Linked DNA regions of Homo sapiens: region 1 is linked to region 2. The links come from fine-mapping of genetic effects on gene expression. Tissue or cell type: whole blood. Region 2 holds a variant in brackets; the other region holds the start of a gene. All regions are shown on one strand. Distances are between the middles of the regions.

Region 1 (8,153 bases), 30 kb after region 2:
GGCTACCTGTTGGATGGCACAGATAGAAAACATTGCTATTATCACAGAAAATTGTATTAGATAGCGCTGTTTATATCCTTTATGCTGCTATCATAGAAAGTTGTATTGGATAGCGCTGTTTAGATCCTTTACTCAACCACGAAAATTCTATCAGAGACCATGATTTAATTCCTATTTTTAAACTATATAACAGGCACCACGCGATATCCTGTGGTGTTGCAAATAAACAAGAAGGTCTAGTTCCTCTCTCAAAACATAATCTAATGACAAAGATGTAACCAGTTCAAATGAACAGCTAGTAGGAACAAATTAAATGCTAAACTGGTATGATGGGGTGGGAGGCACTCATTAATTCTAATAAATGAAAGCACCACAGTTTGATTGCAGTCAGGTGACCACCTTCACTTATTAAATGCATTGAGGCACTGAGTACATGAAAAAGAACACATTTTGGCATCAGGCAGCCCTGGGCTCATGTCCTAGCTGTATGTCTGTGGACAAGGCACTTAATCCCTCTATACCTTTATCATCTCATCTATAAAATGAGGATAATAATGCTAGCCTACTTGCAACATAAGGCTTTACCACGTAAGATTAGGGATAACGGAGCTTCATACACAAATGTACTCTCTAATTTGCTTTTTTTCAGTAACTCAACTAGGGTGAGGCAAGGAATCAAGAAAGTGTCACAAAAGAAGTGACACTTGGCCAGGCGTGGTGGCTCACACCTGTAATACCAGCACTTTGGGAGGCCGAGGCGGGGGCATCACAAGGTCAGGAGATCAAGACCATCCTGGCTAACACAGTGAAACCCCATCTCTACTAAAAATACAAAAAATTAGCTGGGTGTGGTGGCGGGCCCCTGTAGTTCCAGCTACTCGGGAGGCTGAGGCAGGAGAATGGCATGAACCCGGGAGGTGGAGCTTGCAGTGAGCTGAGATCGCACCACTGCACTTCAGCCTGGGTGACAGAGCGAGACCCCCATCTCAAAAAAAAAAAAACAAAAAAAATGACACCTGAGATGGACTTTAACTGCCTCTTGAGGTCCCACCCAATAGAATTCTGTACAGTGGCAATTCACATTTCAGCACACTCTTCAAATAATTTCTGAATGGCACAGTGGGGTACATGAAGAAGGCCCCATAAACTCCAGGCTCTACCTCTTCCCGGAACTGCCCGAAGGGCTGAGGGGATCCCTATCTCAGTACAGTACGCGATATTTGGGGGCAGTCCCTGCTAAAGGGCTAGAACTGGGTCTCCTGAAAAAAATCATGAAGATTTTGGTGTTTGCCAGCCTGTTGTAGTCTGAGCCTGTTCAGTTCGAAAGCCTTGAAAATACCACTTAGCCACTTCAGTTTCCTCACCTGTAGAGCAGGACATCTGTGGTGTCCCCAACTCACAGATAGTATAGAACACTTGTAAAGCCACTTCGCTATAAAGGCCTACCACATATAGGGTGTCTGGAGCAGCTCTGAGCTTCATTTCTTCAGTCTTCCATTATGAAACTCATCCGGGAGTGTAGGTGTCCATCTTTCCCCACCAGACTGTAAGCAACTTGAAGGTAAAGACCATGCCTCACAGTGAGTAATCAAAAGTCTCATCTCACCATAATCTGCTGAATGCCTACACTGTGCCTCACCCCATGCTAAATGTTCATTTGGATTATCCCGTTTACTCCTCACCACGAGATGAGTCTCAGTTTTTCCTCTTCTGCAAAGTTCCTACTTCATAGGGCTCCGAGAATTTTTTTTAATGGCAATGTATGTAAAGATATCAGTACTGCACTTCGCATGTAATAAAGACATAGTAAATTTCAGTTATCCATTCTGTAGATAAGAAAATTAAGGCACAGACAGGTTAAGTTGCTGGGGTCAGTAAGGCGGCAAAGTCAGGCTTAAATTCTAGGCAGTTGGCAGAGGCAACATGCTGCAAGTGTCCAAGCCAGTGCCTGGCACATAACAGAATGAGTTCAATGAATTGTCTGTCAGAACCTGAGCAGGGCCTGAAATCAATGACAACTGCATGAGAGAGGAGAGGAGAGGAGAGGTAAGGTCTGGGTGGCCCCTTAACCTAAGATGGGAGAGACTACCTACTTCACAGGGCTGTTCTAAGGACTGAGTGCGAGGATACACACAAAGGTCTTAGTATAGTGACTGGTATGAAGTAAAGGCTTTGTAAGGGGTAGCTATCCTTGCCTCCCTCTTACAGATGAGAAAACGGAGACACAGGGAGATGAAGAAACTCTCCCAGTATTATTCAGCTGGCAAATAGCTGAGCCAGGACTCGATCTGCAGAGTCTGACTCCGGAGCCCACTGGCTTTTACTCCAAATACCCAGCACTGGGCCCGACATGCTAGGGCCAGTACGGCAGTGAATGCAGCCGAGATAATAACAGCCACAAATGTCAGGGGGAAACTGAAGGGAAAATGGCTTGATGAACTAGAAGTCTGGACACCTGAGTCCCAGTCCGTGGACCCTCAGGCAAGTACCTTAAACCTTCCCGGGCCTCAGTTTCCTTCTTCGAGAAATGGGGCTAACTTTGTCTCCCATCTCAGAAGCTCGATCAGGCCTGGAAAGCAAGGCTCAATGAAGAGGCTTAGAGGGGCCTAGGTTGTATGTGGGCGAGAGGACAATCCGGGGACCGTCCAGGGGGTGGGGATTTGGTGTTTACCTTTGCGGAGCTCGCGGTGCCACACGGAGACGATGGGTCCCGCGTGCTTGCGGTGGTGGATGAGCCAAAGGGACAGGGTCTGCACGCTCTGCTGAGAGTTGCTCAGCTCCGAGAGCTTCTTCTCCAGCGCCGACTCAGAGAAGGAGGACATGGTGGCGGCAGTGAGGCCCGGCAGGGAGCGGCCTGGGCCGCCCAGTGCGGCGGGAAGAGCGACGGCACGAGGCCGGGGCCTCACCTGACAGGCTGCGGGACTTTTTACCGACTGACAGACTGCCAGGGGTGCGAGAAGGGGGAGGGGATGGGTCTCCGCAGTAACAGCCGCCCGCGCCGCCGCCACAAGATGGCCACCCGACCTCTCACCCTGCCGCGAGAGCGAGGTCAAAGGGCAAGGGCCGGAGCAGAGGGGCACCGAGAGGCGTCGGAGCTCTAGAAAACCGTCCCTTTGGAGGCGGCGGCCGCTCTGAACCTCGCGCAGAGCACTTCGAAGGAGACAGAGCGAGGCAAGGAGAGTAGTTCCCCGGGCCCCCGGAAAGAGCTTTGACCGCTCGAGCCTGCACACCGGCGCAGTGGATCTCGCCGGAACCCTTTTTCCCGCTCCCTCGGAACCTTTCTGGCGCGATACGGCGCGCTACTTAGCGCGTCACTTCCGGCGAGGCAGAGGAGGCGGGAGAGTGAGAGAAAGGCTGGAAGACGAGGTAAGGGAAGAGTGGCGGGAACCAGAGGGAGCCCAGCAGCTGGGACCCTGTAGAGGGGTATCCTGAGGGGACATTGAGTCTGAGAGATCATGATCTGGATATGGGAGGGGGATTTCCTTTCTAATCTGGCGGGCCCCAGGCCGCATCTTTCCTCCATATGTGTTCGGCTCTCTGGCTGTCCCCCAAAACACTTAGTTTTGGTTCTTCCAAGCCACCCACGTGCCCTTTTCACGCCTCCACGCCCTGGCGCTCGTTCTCTGTCCGAAAGTGACATCCCCTTTCTCACCTGGTGAGCTCCTACTCAGCCCCCCGGAGCACCCTTTAATGTCCTGTTTTGACCTTTTAGTCTGTAACAGCGCCGTCATGAAACACACATTTGGGCTCTCGGCTCTTAAGTGGGTTCTCACTCAGGGTATTATTACGTGCTGCTTTTGCCGTCTGCGGGTCCAGTTGACTTTTTCGAACTTAAGTGAGGTGTTAACTTTAGGGAAAAGGTGGAGGGAACTAACTTAGCCTTCCCAATGTGTCTGTTGACCTCATGTTGAGACACACTATTTGAGGCCTGGCGCAACGTCTCTTGCTTGTAATCCCAACCCTTTGGGAGGCCGAGGCGAGAGGATAGCTTGAGGACTGGAGTTCAAGACCAGCCTGGGTAACAGCGAAAATTAGCCAGGCATGGTGACGCTCACCTGCAGTTCCAGCTACGCGAGAGGATACCTTGAGCCCAGGAGTTAGAGGTTACAGTGAGCTATGATCGTGCCACTGCACTCCAGCCTGGGCGATGGAGCGAGACTCTTCTCTGAAACAAAACAAAACACTATCTGAGACTCTAAACCTTGACCCTATTTTTTTTTTAAGTTTTAAATCCCAGGTATCAAAGCAGCAGAGAAATTTTGTTTTTCTTACTGCCACGGGGGTGATGGTAGGGAGTTAAGTTATAGACATAAGAGGGTTTTAAAATTTCCTGATCGTGGTATAACTTCCTAGTTGTGGGCAGACTCTAGTTTAGGAGACGTTCTTCTAGTTGATGCCTGCTTTTGCTCTTATTGCACTGTATTGCAGTTCTTTGCTTACATGCTTTTACCCTTCCTCCAGACTGGAATCATAATCATAGCTAACGCAGTGAGAGGTTACTATGTGCTAGACACAATTCCCACACAGTAACTCATTTAATCCTCACAACAAAGCTGTGAGGTATTATATTATCCCCCTTTGGACAGCGTAGGAAACAGGCTCAGAGAGGTTAAGTGACCTACCCAAGATCACATTACTAAGACTTGAGGGAAGGGGCTGCAACTTAGCCATCTTTTTGGCCCCAGTTCCTGATTTATCAAGTGAGTTAGTGTAAAAGAGGTGAGTAACCTAAAATCATACAGTGAGTATCTAGTCATAACTGAGGGCTTTTGTGTCGAAATCTAGATCATCTTTCCATATTAATAACACTGTCATATACTGAGCACTTTTATACCAAGTCACTGTCTATTAAGCACATTACATACTTTTTAAATTTAATTCTTACATCAGTCTTAGGAGTTGAAATTATTACAATCACTATTTGATAGACGAGAAAATGTAAAGCATGGTTAAGTACCCTATGTACTTGGACATAGTTAGGAAATAGCAGAGCCAGGAGTCAAATTAGGGTTATCTTATGTCTGATCCCAAATTCTTGCCTCCTGAACCAATAGTTTATTCATTCATTCGGAAAATAATTTTTCAGCACCTATGTCCAAAGCACTCTTCTAAGCTAACAGACAAAATCCACGTTCTCAGGAACTTACTTTCTACTGAGAAAGATAGAAAAACAAACATGCAAGTTTAGAATAAGTCAGAAAGTGGTAAGTAACTTCAATAAAAATCAAGGAGATAAGGAGGATAAGGAATGTATATGTGTAGGTGGGTAGTCTTTTACTTATGCTTCTCAGAGAAGGCCTCATTGATAAGATGTCATTTGAGAGACAAGCCATATGCCATTGTTCCAGGAAGAGGGAAAACCAAGTTTATACCATTGTTGGCATTTTGGAGCAACAGCAGAGAGGACAATAAAGCTGGAGTGATATGAACTAGAAGGGTGGCTGGAAATTAGTTCAGAAAAGTACGAAGGGACTGCATCACATGGTGACTTGTAGGCAATAGTATAGACTTTAGATGTTACTCTGAATGAAATGAAGTCCACTGGGCAGTTTTGCACAAAGAAGGAGCATTGTGGCTGTTAGGTAGAAAATAAGACAGTAAGAGTGCAAAGGTAGAAGCAGGAAGGACCAGTTTGGCAGCTGTTGTAGTAACCCAGGTGAAAGGATAACTCAAACCAGGGTGGTATCTGTGGAAGTGGTAAGAAAGGGACAGTTCTGGGGATATTTTAGAGGAAGAGGTAACAGGATCCGCTGATAGATTGGATATGGGGTGTGAAAGACATATGAGAGTTGAGATAGCTCCAAGGGTTTTGGCCTAAGCAACTATAAGAATAGCGCTTCCATTTACTGAATTACAGAAAAGAGTGGGTTTGGAGAGTAAGAGCAAGCATTTGTATTTGGACATGTCCATTTGGAAATGCCTATCTGAGTATAGATGTCTAAGGGGCAGTTGGGTTTATGGGTCTGGAATTCAAGGAAGAGCTATCTGGGTTAGAGATAAAAATGTGAGAGTCATAACGGAATAAGGTGTAAAAAGAGACTGAGTCCTAGGATTCTTCAACATATAGAGGTCTGAAAGGTGAGGATGATATGATTATGTGATTTTTCTTCTTAAGCTTGTTAATAGCTTGTTAGTATTAACAACTCTAATTGATTTTCAAATATTGAGCCAGTCTTGCATCTCTGAAATATACCCCACTTTATCATGGTGTGTGTGTGTGTGTGTGTGTGTGTGTGTGTGTTTTACATACTGCTGAATTTCCTAATATTTTCTTTAGGATTTTTGCATCTATACTCATGAGAGAAATTGGTCTATAGATTTTTTTAATTTTTGTATTGCCTTTGGTTTGGTATCAGGATAATACTGGCTTTATAAAATGGATTGGAAAGTGTTTCTTCTTTTTCTAGAAGAGTATGTGCAGAATTGGTGTTAATTCTTCATTAAATGTTTGGCGGAATTCTCCAATGAAACCATCTTGGTTTGGAGATTCCCTCCACTCCCTGCTTCCCTCCCTCCCTCCTTCCTCCTTCCTCCCTCCTCCCTCCCTCCCTTCCTTCCCTTCTTCCTTTTTTTTCTGGAGTTTTTAAGTGACAAATTCAGTTTATTTAAAAGTTATAAAGCTGTTAAAATAATCTCTTTCCTATTGTGGTTGTGTTTTTTGAGGAATTAACCACTTCATCAAAGTTGTCAAATTTATATGGGTAAAGCTATTTGTGGTATTCCCTGTCTTTGTTTTCTGTTGCTTATAACAGAATACCTGAAACTGGGTAATTTATAAAGAAAAAGGATGTATTTCTTACAGTTATGGAGGCTGAGAAATCCAAGGTCACAGGGCCACATCAGGTAAAAAACTTTCTTGCTGGTGGGGACTCTGCAGAGTCCCAAGGCAGTGCAGGATATCACAGGGCCAGGGGGCTGAGTGTGCTAGCTGAGGTCTGTTTTGCTCTTATAAAGCCACCAGTTCCCATGATAACCCATTAATCCATTTATGAGGGCTTATAAAGACTCCACTTCTCAATACATTGGGAATTAAATTTCAACATGAGTTTTGGAAGGGACGGATATTCAAACCATAGCATTCCCATATTACCCTTTGATGTCTGCAGGGTCTGTAGTACTGTCCCGTTTCATTACTGATATTGGAAATTTCCAGTATCAGTGTCTCGTCTCTTCTCTCTCCTCTCTCTCTCTCTCTCTCTCTTGCTCACTCACTCCCTTGTCAATCTTGCTAGAAGTTTGTCAATTTTATTGACCTTTTCAAAGAACCAGTTATTTATTTCATTGACTTTCTGTGTTTTCTGTTTTCAGTTTTGTCAGTTTCTGCTCCTTATTATTTCTTCTGCTTGCTTTATTTTGCTCTACTTTGTCTAGGTTCTTGTGGTAGGAGTTTACCTTTTTCGTTTGAGACTTTTCCCCTTTTCTAATATATGACTTAGTACTATTAATTTACATCTCAGCATGGCTATAGCTGTATCCACAGATTTTGGTGTGTCATATTTTCATTTTCATTCATTTCCCTATTTTTTTTCTAATTTCCCTTAAGGTTTCCTCTCTGTTCCGTGGATTATTTAGAAACATGTTGTTTAGTTTCCAAGTATTTGGAGATTTTCCTGTTATCTCTGTGTTAGTGATTTCAAGCTTGATTTCATTGTGGCTGGGGAATGTCACTCTGTATGATTTCAGTTCTTTTAAATTTGTTGAGGTTTGTTTTATGGCAGGATAATCATCTGTCTTATGTTCTATGAGCACTTGAAAAGAATGTGGGCTAGGCACTGTAGCTCATGCCTGTAATCTTAACACTTTGGGAGGTCAAGGCAGGAGGATCACTTGAGCCTAGGAGTTCAAGAACAGCCTGGGCAACATGGCGAAACTCGGTCTTTAAAAAATACAAAAATTAGCTGGGCATAGTGGCATGCACCTGGAGTCCCAGCCACTCAGAACGCTGAGGTGGGAGGATTGCTTGAGCTCAGGAAATTGAGGCTGCAGTGAGCCATCATCGAGCCACTGCACTGCAGCCTGAGCAATAGAGTGAGATCCTGTCTAAAAAAACAAATAACAACAACAAAAGAATGTGTAGTCTGCTATTGTAGGATGGAGTGTTCTATAAATGTCATAGGTCCTGTTGGTTGATGGTGGTGGTTTTTCTATATCCT
Region 2 (8,195 bases):
CAAGACTATCCTGGCTAACATGGTGAAACCCCGTCCCTACTAAAAATACAAAAAATTAGCCAGGCGTGGTGGTGGACGCCTGTAGTTCCAGCTACTTGGGAGGCTGAGGCAGGAGAATGGCGTGAACCTGGGAGGCAGAGCTTGCAGTGAGCCGAGATCGCACCGCTGCACTCCAGCCTGGGCGACGGAGCGAGACTGCGTCTCAAAAAAAAAAAGAAATAAACCTCCAAATGACTTGAAAGAAACATTTTTCAGCACTTCCCAAATACTACCAAACATATTCTTTGGTTTTCACTGATTTGCTATCCTTTTTGTACCTCAATTCGTAATTTTTTTAAAAACATGAGTTCAAACGAAAGCAATATTAAGATCCTAAGGCTGTGATTAAGAGTTCACTGTTTGTTTCCTACAATCCAGTTTGTTCTGTCCTGGACATATAAGAACATGACTTCAATTTTTAACTGGGCTCAAATAATTACAGTATCTGATGGATGTTCAGAATTCACATCATGAATTTTTAAACGATAAAAATGTTGTTAATTAAAGCATAATAAAAACCTCCTAATGTGGGCTACAGGAAGGGAAACGTGGGCAGTCTGGGTCTGCCTTCAATGCACTCACCTCTAGTTTTTTCTCCTTCTCCGACAAAACATCTTTCTGATTCTGGGTATACTCCACCAACATCCGAGCCAGCTGGCGACGGTCCTCCAGTTCTGCTGCCAGGCGCCCGTTATATTCTGCTAGTAACAGACATGCTTCATCTACTGTTTTTGAAAGACGTTCAGCTGCCTCTTTGTCTAAGTACAAATGAGACCAAAAAATAGAGAAAATATACAAATCACACAGGTATGACTACAAACATTTCTGGGGGAGGTTAACGGTTTCTCTCCCAATATACAGAGTCTGAGAATAAGCCAGCACCTGTGGACAAACAATGAGTTGATTAAGCAAGAAATCCAAAGGCATTCACTCTGTCAACAAGACAGGACACTACTCAATTACCTGAAGTGAGGAAGCTGTACATGGGGGGAATCTGGCAAAGGCTTTCTAAATGCCTGTTCCTGCAAAAGCTCTCCTGACAAAACAAGCATAAAGAGATATTGAAGATCACCTGTGAAAAAATCGTTCCTTGTCTCTGAGAATTGCAAGTGCTTTCATTTATATTACGGTTGGCCCCTATATCTGTGGGTTCTGTATCTGTGGATTCAACCAACCATGAATGGAAAATACTCAGACCAAAAAACCCCACAAACCAATAAAAATAACAATTAAAAACCCAATTTTAAAAATACAGAATAACAACTATTTACATAGCATTTACATTGCATTAGCTATGATAAGTAATCTAGAGAGTATTTAAAGTATATGGGAAGATGTTTGTTGGTTATAGACAAATCCGACACCATTTAAGGGCCTTGAGCAACCTTGGATTTTGGTATCCTCAGAAGGTCTTGGAACCAAACCCCCATGGATATGGAGGGACCACTATATTTCATTAAGTAGTCTTTTTACTTTCCACTGGAATAAAAAATAGCATGCACTTATTTATTGGGTGTGGGAACTAAGACCCCCTCCCCGCCAGAAAAAAAACTACATGACAGGTTTCTATATGCAGTGAGCTGAGATGCTGGGGCTCGAAGCCAGATCTCTAAAATGATCTATAGCACTCTATCTCTTAAACTATGTAAGCCTTGGACGTGGGGATGAACTTCTTCCTACATTTGACAAAATGTAAAGTCTGATAAGAAAGAGGTTTTTAAATGTTTCTGAACATGACCCACAGCAGAAATACACTTATGTAAATACACAGAAAAATGAAAGCAGCGTTTCATAAAATACCCATTCTTACTATGTGTGCTCTATCTTCTATTTTATCTCTTTTTTTTTTTTTTGAGATGGTGTCTTGCTCTGTGACCCAGGCTGGAGTGCAGTGGCATGATCTCGGCTCACTGCAAGCTCCGCCTCCCAGGTTCATGCCATTCTCCTGCCTCAGCCTCCCGAGTAGCTGGGAGTACAGGCCCCCGCCACCACGCCCGTCTAATTTTTTTGTATTTTTAGTAGAGACGAGGTTTCACTGTGTTAGCCAGGATGGCTTTATTCCATTTTTCAAAAACTGTTGGTCATTAGCTACCAGACTGATTTCATATCCAATTAATGGGTTGTAACTCATGCTTTGGGGGTGGAAAAACATTAAGAAAGGGTATTTTTGGGAAGAAGTGATGAACAAAGGCTCATAATTAAGAAATGAGAAGAAAAAGCAGGATCTGTATTTACAAAGAACTGATATAATTAATTATGTGTGGGTGGTGGTGAGATTCGAATTTTAAATATGTATAACTCATTTTTAAAAGACCTGAATGAATCAAAAGAGTAGGTTGGTGCTTTGAAACAAAGGGCACCAGAGACTCCGGCAGTACCGTGGGACAGTTCCATGACATTCCCTATGGATACAGGCTGTCAGAGGTGAGAGCTCGCATTCTCCTGGGGAACTAGGATTTAAGAATCCCCAACACAGTATCTCTGGCAAACAGCCATCTGGCTTTTCGATGCCTTCTTAATGTGAATATTGCAAGAGGAACTGCTGAAGGATTCCAGATTGGGTGTGATGCCAAAGATTAGGAACCTCTACCCTCCTCAGGGATGGGAAACAAAGAATGTCCTTGGTGAAGGGGAAGAAGTGAGCGGAATGGAACACAAAGGAAAGAGATCACCTCAGTCACAGAGGATAAAGGACCGCCAACTTCTCCTTCCTGCTCAGTGGCTCAGTCCATGAGCAAGCTCCTGGGGTGGTTAGGTTGGTTTTAGTTTTGTTATTGCTTGACTGATCGTTTTTAAAAAATGGTTAATTCACTAAGATGTTTAGGTGCCTGTGGCAAAAAATGGCAAATACTAATTTTTAAGATTAAAAAGAAAATCAATTTGCAGCCTCAAGAACTTTTACAAAGGAAATAATTCATTTACACAAATAATTACAACCCAGAAAAGTAACTTATAATAGTTTAGTGAGTTATACAAATACGCAGTGAAAATGCAGAAGCCAGATGCT[C/T]GCTTCGGGGGACCTACCCACGCTGTCCTCACGCTCCCTGCTCTCCTTCACCCATCAGAGGAGTGGCAAGTGCCTCTTTCGGCCAGTCCTCCAAGCGGCATGCGCATCCCATTCCCTCGTTTCCTCAAAGACTAAACTTCTGCAGCCGTCCCATGTCTTCTCTACCTCAGCAAATTCTCTCTCTCCCTCCTAAGAAAACCACTAGCACACAAACCTGCTGCCATGTATTCCACCTACATACCACTCTCCCACTACTGACCTGCTTCCCTGCTCCCCCTTGCAGCTAAACTCTTTTCAGAGAAGTGTAGCCACCTGCTCTCCTCCTGAGCCCACCCCAATCGGGCTTTATGCCCACCAATCCTCTGCTCAAAACCTTCCAATTAGTTTAACAAATTTGAGTTCTTATAACTAGGCTCTTAGAAACAGCAGAGAATAAAAAGGACAAAAACTCTCTGCCCTCAAGTTTATATTATCAGGTAGGAAGAGAATCAATATACAATAAATATTATGCTTACTTATCAGCTGAAGAGAACTACAGAGAAAAACAAGGCAGAGGAGAAAAAGTGGGGCACTGGAAGGTGGGGGGGATCAACATTTTCAAAAAGGTGGTCAGGGTGAGCTTCGCTAAGGTGATACGTAAACAAAGGCCTAAGAAAATGAGAACCAGCTATGTAACTATCTGGGAGGAACGTTTCAGGCAGAGGGGACAGCAAGTACAAAGGCGCTAGGAGGAAAGAGTGACTGGCAAGGAGCCCATATGACTTGAGCAGTGAGTGAGGGGAAAATAGTAAAAGTCTTGCGGTAACAGAGGCCAGTGAAAGACTCTGCTTTAAAGCCAGGCAGGGGGCTCACATCTGTAATCCCAGTGTTTTGGGAGGCCAGGATGGGAGGATTGCTTGAGTCCAGGAGTTTGAGGTTACAATGAGCTAAGATCATGCCACTGACTCCAGCCTGGGTGACAGAATGAGACTGTATCTCAAAAAAAAAAAAAAAGGGGGGGGGGCTCTGGCTTTTAATTTGGTGATGGGGGGAGTCGTGGGGGTGTTATGTGGAGCGGGAGACATGATCTGCCTTCTACTAAGAGGATCACTCTGGTTACTATGTTGAGACTAGAATGATGGCTGAGCAAGAGGAACAAACGAAGTAGCTAGACCAGCTGGGAGGCTACTGCAATAAATCAACTGAACATGGTAGAGACCTGTACCAGGTGGCAGTGGTAGAGGCGGTGACAGGATATCAGATGCTGGTTTTGGTCCCAATCAACAGGAATGATGAGGGCCATTTACTGAGATGGAGAAGACCATGAGTGAAACAAGTTTTAGAGGAAAGGTCAGAAGTTCAGTGTGGGGCAGAGTAAGCTTGAAATGCCTATCAAGATATCCAACTAATAAAACTGAGTAGGAGGTTGGATATATGGGTCTCAAGTTCAAGGTGGAAGGGTCAACACTAGAGATGTAAATTAGGAAATCATTCGCAGAAAAACTCTTATTTATAGTCATGAAATTGGGTGAGAATGGCTGCCAGTGAAACCAGCTAAAGAAGGGGGCTAATATGAAGAGGTCAAGGAGGAGTGAAGAAACCAGCAAGGAGGCTGAAAAGACACAGAAAGAGAGGAGGAAAGCTAGAATAATGCAGGGTCCTAGTTCCCACTGCTACTGTAGCAAATTACCACAAATTTAGTGGCTTGGAATATCACCAATTAATTATCTTATGCCTTATCACAGTTGCTTCCTCCATCTTCAAAGCACATCGCTCCAACCTCTGCTTCCACGGTAATACCTCCTTCTCATTCCCCCTCTCCCACCTTCCTCTTACAAGGACCCTGTGATTACACTGGGCCCTCTTAAATAATCCAGGGTAATCTCCTCATCTCAAGATATTTAATCACACCTGCCAAGTCCCTTGGCCATATAAGATTACATATACACAGGTTCTGTGGATTAAAACATGGGTGTTTGCGGGGTGGGGGGTCAGGAGGCATTATTCCAACTACTACACCAAGTGAAGAAAGTATTTTCAGGAAGAAGAAATAATCTACTGGGCCAAATACTACTGGGGTGAAGTTAAGATGGGGGCAGAGAATCCACCATTGAGTTCAGCAACAAGGAAGTCATCAGCAACTGGGAGGACGGGAAGTAGAGAGACAGCACAGGCAATCCATTCAGGTGGTTTGGCTAAAAAGAACAGAGAAATGAGGCAGTAGCTAGAGGAAGATATGAGGTCAAGAAAAAAATCTTCCCAAGTGGGGGAAAAATTCATGTTTTTATGCTATTGAGAATGATCCAGTAAAGAGTAAAAAATGGAGAATGCAGGAGAAAGAGGGAGCATTGTTGGAGCAATGGCCTTGGCTAGATGAGAAGGAGCAGATCTAATACACAGAGAGGCGGGTTTAGAAAATAGCATGTCCATGTAGAGAAATAGGAGGAAAAGTCAACTCAGACATGTTAGTTTTTCCCAGCCACATTCCACTACACAGGTTCGGGAAAGGAACAGACAAAAAGCTAAATTTAAGAATGGTGGTTGCCAGGTGATATGGGAAGTGAAAAATGATGAGTTATTGTTTAACGGGTATAGAGTTTCAGTTTGGCAAGACGAAAAGAACTCTGGAAACTGGTTGTATAACAACATGAGAATACTTAGCACAACTAAATTGTACACCTTTGTGTTTTATGTAGCTTACCATTTTATATGTATTTTACCACAATTAAAAATCAAAATTAAAAAAGTATTTTAAAAGGAAGCTACATGAGACCTTTAGGTCAGTGAAACAGAGAAACAAAATTACATACATGGCTAGCTTTACATTAACTTGCTTGCAATTTTTGCAGATTATGATTTTGACAGTAAGAATAAATGAAGTGGTCCTTTTAGTAGTAAGTATTTTTAAAATGTGATTTAACCTGTTTAGGGATTTTGCCAGGAGACTACACTGAAGGGAGAAAGAGAAGAAAATGGGTTGAAGGTGTGTGTGAGGAAGTGAAAAGAGAGACTCCAATCTGAATAAAGAAGAAAATGAGGACTCGAGGACTAGGAAGAGGTGGGGGAGGAATCAAGAGACTGCAGGTCCCAGTGGGGTGAATTCCTGGGGTGGGAAAGCAGAGTGAGGGGCTGAGATGCTTCTTGCGTGACTCACAAGGCCTCCGAGCTGTGTTCTCCAACCCAGTACGCCCACTGCCTGAGGTCTTTCCCTGTGCTGCTTCCACTGCCTGGTGGCCCTTCCTTCCCTTGGATATCCTCATGGCTTGCTTCCTAATTTTTCGGGTCTCTGCTCAAGGTCATCTCATCAGAAAGGCTTTCCCCAAACACCTTTAAAATACCATTAATACCGCCTGCAATCATTTTCCGCTCCCACTGCCCTGCTTTATTTTCCTTCTTGACACTTCACTTGAGGGGATATAGGTGGGCCTCAAATATTTGTTGAGGGAAATATTTCATCAGTGACCTTGATTTCCTTTAGATAGATATGGAAGAAGTTAGAGAAGCAGCCAAGTCAAGGGACTGGAGTGGGAAAATGGTGGCCTTTGGAAGACAATGGAATGAAAGGTCTGAGCTTTTGTAAGGGGAGGAACATAGGCTTTGCAGCCTAGATTAGAATCCCAAGATCCACTACTTGTGTGACCTTGGACAAGACACCTATCTTCTCAAAGCCTCAATGTCCTCCTATGCAATATGGAGACACACATTTAGTCACCTCCAAAGACTATCACAAAGAACAGAAGTACCGGTGCAAAGCCTACTGTCAATATTAGTTCATGCTTCATTCCTTCCTTTCAATTTCCCATAAGGAAAGCAGGAATCGTGTCAACTGCCCCTCCCTGTTTAACTAGGGAGGTCACGACTAGGGCAAAATGACATGTCTAACAGACACCTGAAATTCCTGGCACTGAACGCACTATCATCTACGGGGCTTGTCAGAGAGCAGGGCACAAATCACACAGCCCTGAATCATAATTTTTTTTCTTTTAGTAAGAGGGTTATGAGTCTAACAGACAGAATAATACCTAATCTCCCCCACCCACCCCACACGCACACAATTTGTACTATGTTTTTAACAGACCTTATTTAGAGAGCCACAGGTTGTGGCACACCAGCATTTCTGCAATAATTCCTAGAATCACTATTCAAGCTTTGACTATTTCAAAAGTTTCTTTGTTCACCATGTGAGTTATGTTTGCAAATCCCAAGATGGTAGAGCAACCAATACAACATGGAAAGTAGTCTATACCTGCAGACGTTAAGTATGGCCTAGGGTTACTGCATTACAGTTATGTCCCTCTCTCCTCACCTTTCACCCAAACTCTACCTTCTCACCTGTTATTTTTTCCAATAGAGAAACATCTTGCACTTCCTGGGGCAGAGAAGCAATTTTCTGTCGGACAGTAGCATCCCCTGATGCGGCATTTTCCAGATCCTGCAAAGCTTTGATTAGTTCCTCAGTCTGTAAGATGAAAACACAAACAACACTACCCATTAAGACATGGGGTTTAAAGAAAATTAGTTGGAGTTAAATGAGGTGGAGGCAAATTCTAAAAACAGTCATTCCTGCCATTTCTTAAAAAAAACTGTTCTTAGCCCCAGAGCTTACATGTAAGTCAATGTCACGGACTCTAAGAAAATCCACAAAATTAGTTTATCTAAGTCCATGGCAGAACATGAATGAAATTCTGAATAATTATTATTATTTTTTAATTCTAAAAGAACATGTTTTTGGCAATTCAAAACAATGGAGTTTGGTTCATGTTGCTTAATTTCAAATGATGTATCATTTCCAGTATAGAATAAAGGTATAAATATCAGATGTTAACAACTGTGTGTTGTGGCCAGGTGTGGTGGCTCGCACCTGTAATCCTAGCACTTTGGGAAGCCAAGGCAGGAGGATCACTTGAGCCCAGGAGTTCGAGACCAGCCTGGACAATATAGCGACACCCTGTCTCTACAAAAAAATTAAAATAAAATAATAAGCCAAGCATGGTGGCATATGTCTATAGTCCCAGCTACTTGGGAGGCTGAGGTAGGAGTATCACTTGAGCCCCAGAGGTTGAGTTTGCAGTGAACTATGATCATGCTACTGCACGCCAGCCTGGGTAACAGAGCAAGATCCTGTCTCAAGAAGGAGAAGGAAAAAATTATATGTTGACTGATCAACCTA

What was found. PIP is the estimated chance that this variant, and not a neighbour inherited with it, causes the effect.
Region 1: it holds the start of TTI1, and the variant in region 2 is fine-mapped to the expression of TTI1 in whole blood (TOPMed, PIP above 0.99). The same link has a PIP of 0.9 or more in hippocampus, pancreas and testis.

Annotation. Positions count from the first base shown.
Region 1 is chr20:38,028,617-38,036,769 of GRCh38, reverse strand. TTI1 (TELO2 interacting protein 1) reads left to right here and starts at 3,314. Exons shown (of 8, transcript NM_001303457.2): 1 at 3,314-3,366. RPRD1B (regulation of nuclear pre-mRNA domain containing 1B) reads right to left here and starts at 3,024. Exons shown (of 7, transcript NM_021215.4): 1 at 2,672-3,024. The coding sequence starts at 2,822. LOC124904898 (a long non-coding RNA gene) reads right to left here and starts at 2,664. Exons shown (of 2, transcript XR_007067579.1): 1 at 1,365-2,664. RefSeq lists enhancers at 2,392-2,987, 3,188-3,457, 2,988-3,583.
Region 2 is chr20:38,058,683-38,066,877 of GRCh38, reverse strand. RPRD1B (regulation of nuclear pre-mRNA domain containing 1B) reads right to left here. Exons shown (of 7, transcript NM_021215.4): 5 at 7,358-7,484; 6 at 622-797. Among named protein-coding and RNA genes, the nearest start is that of RPRD1B, 29 kb to the right of the region's middle. The variant C/T (reference allele first, on the strand shown) is at 3,047.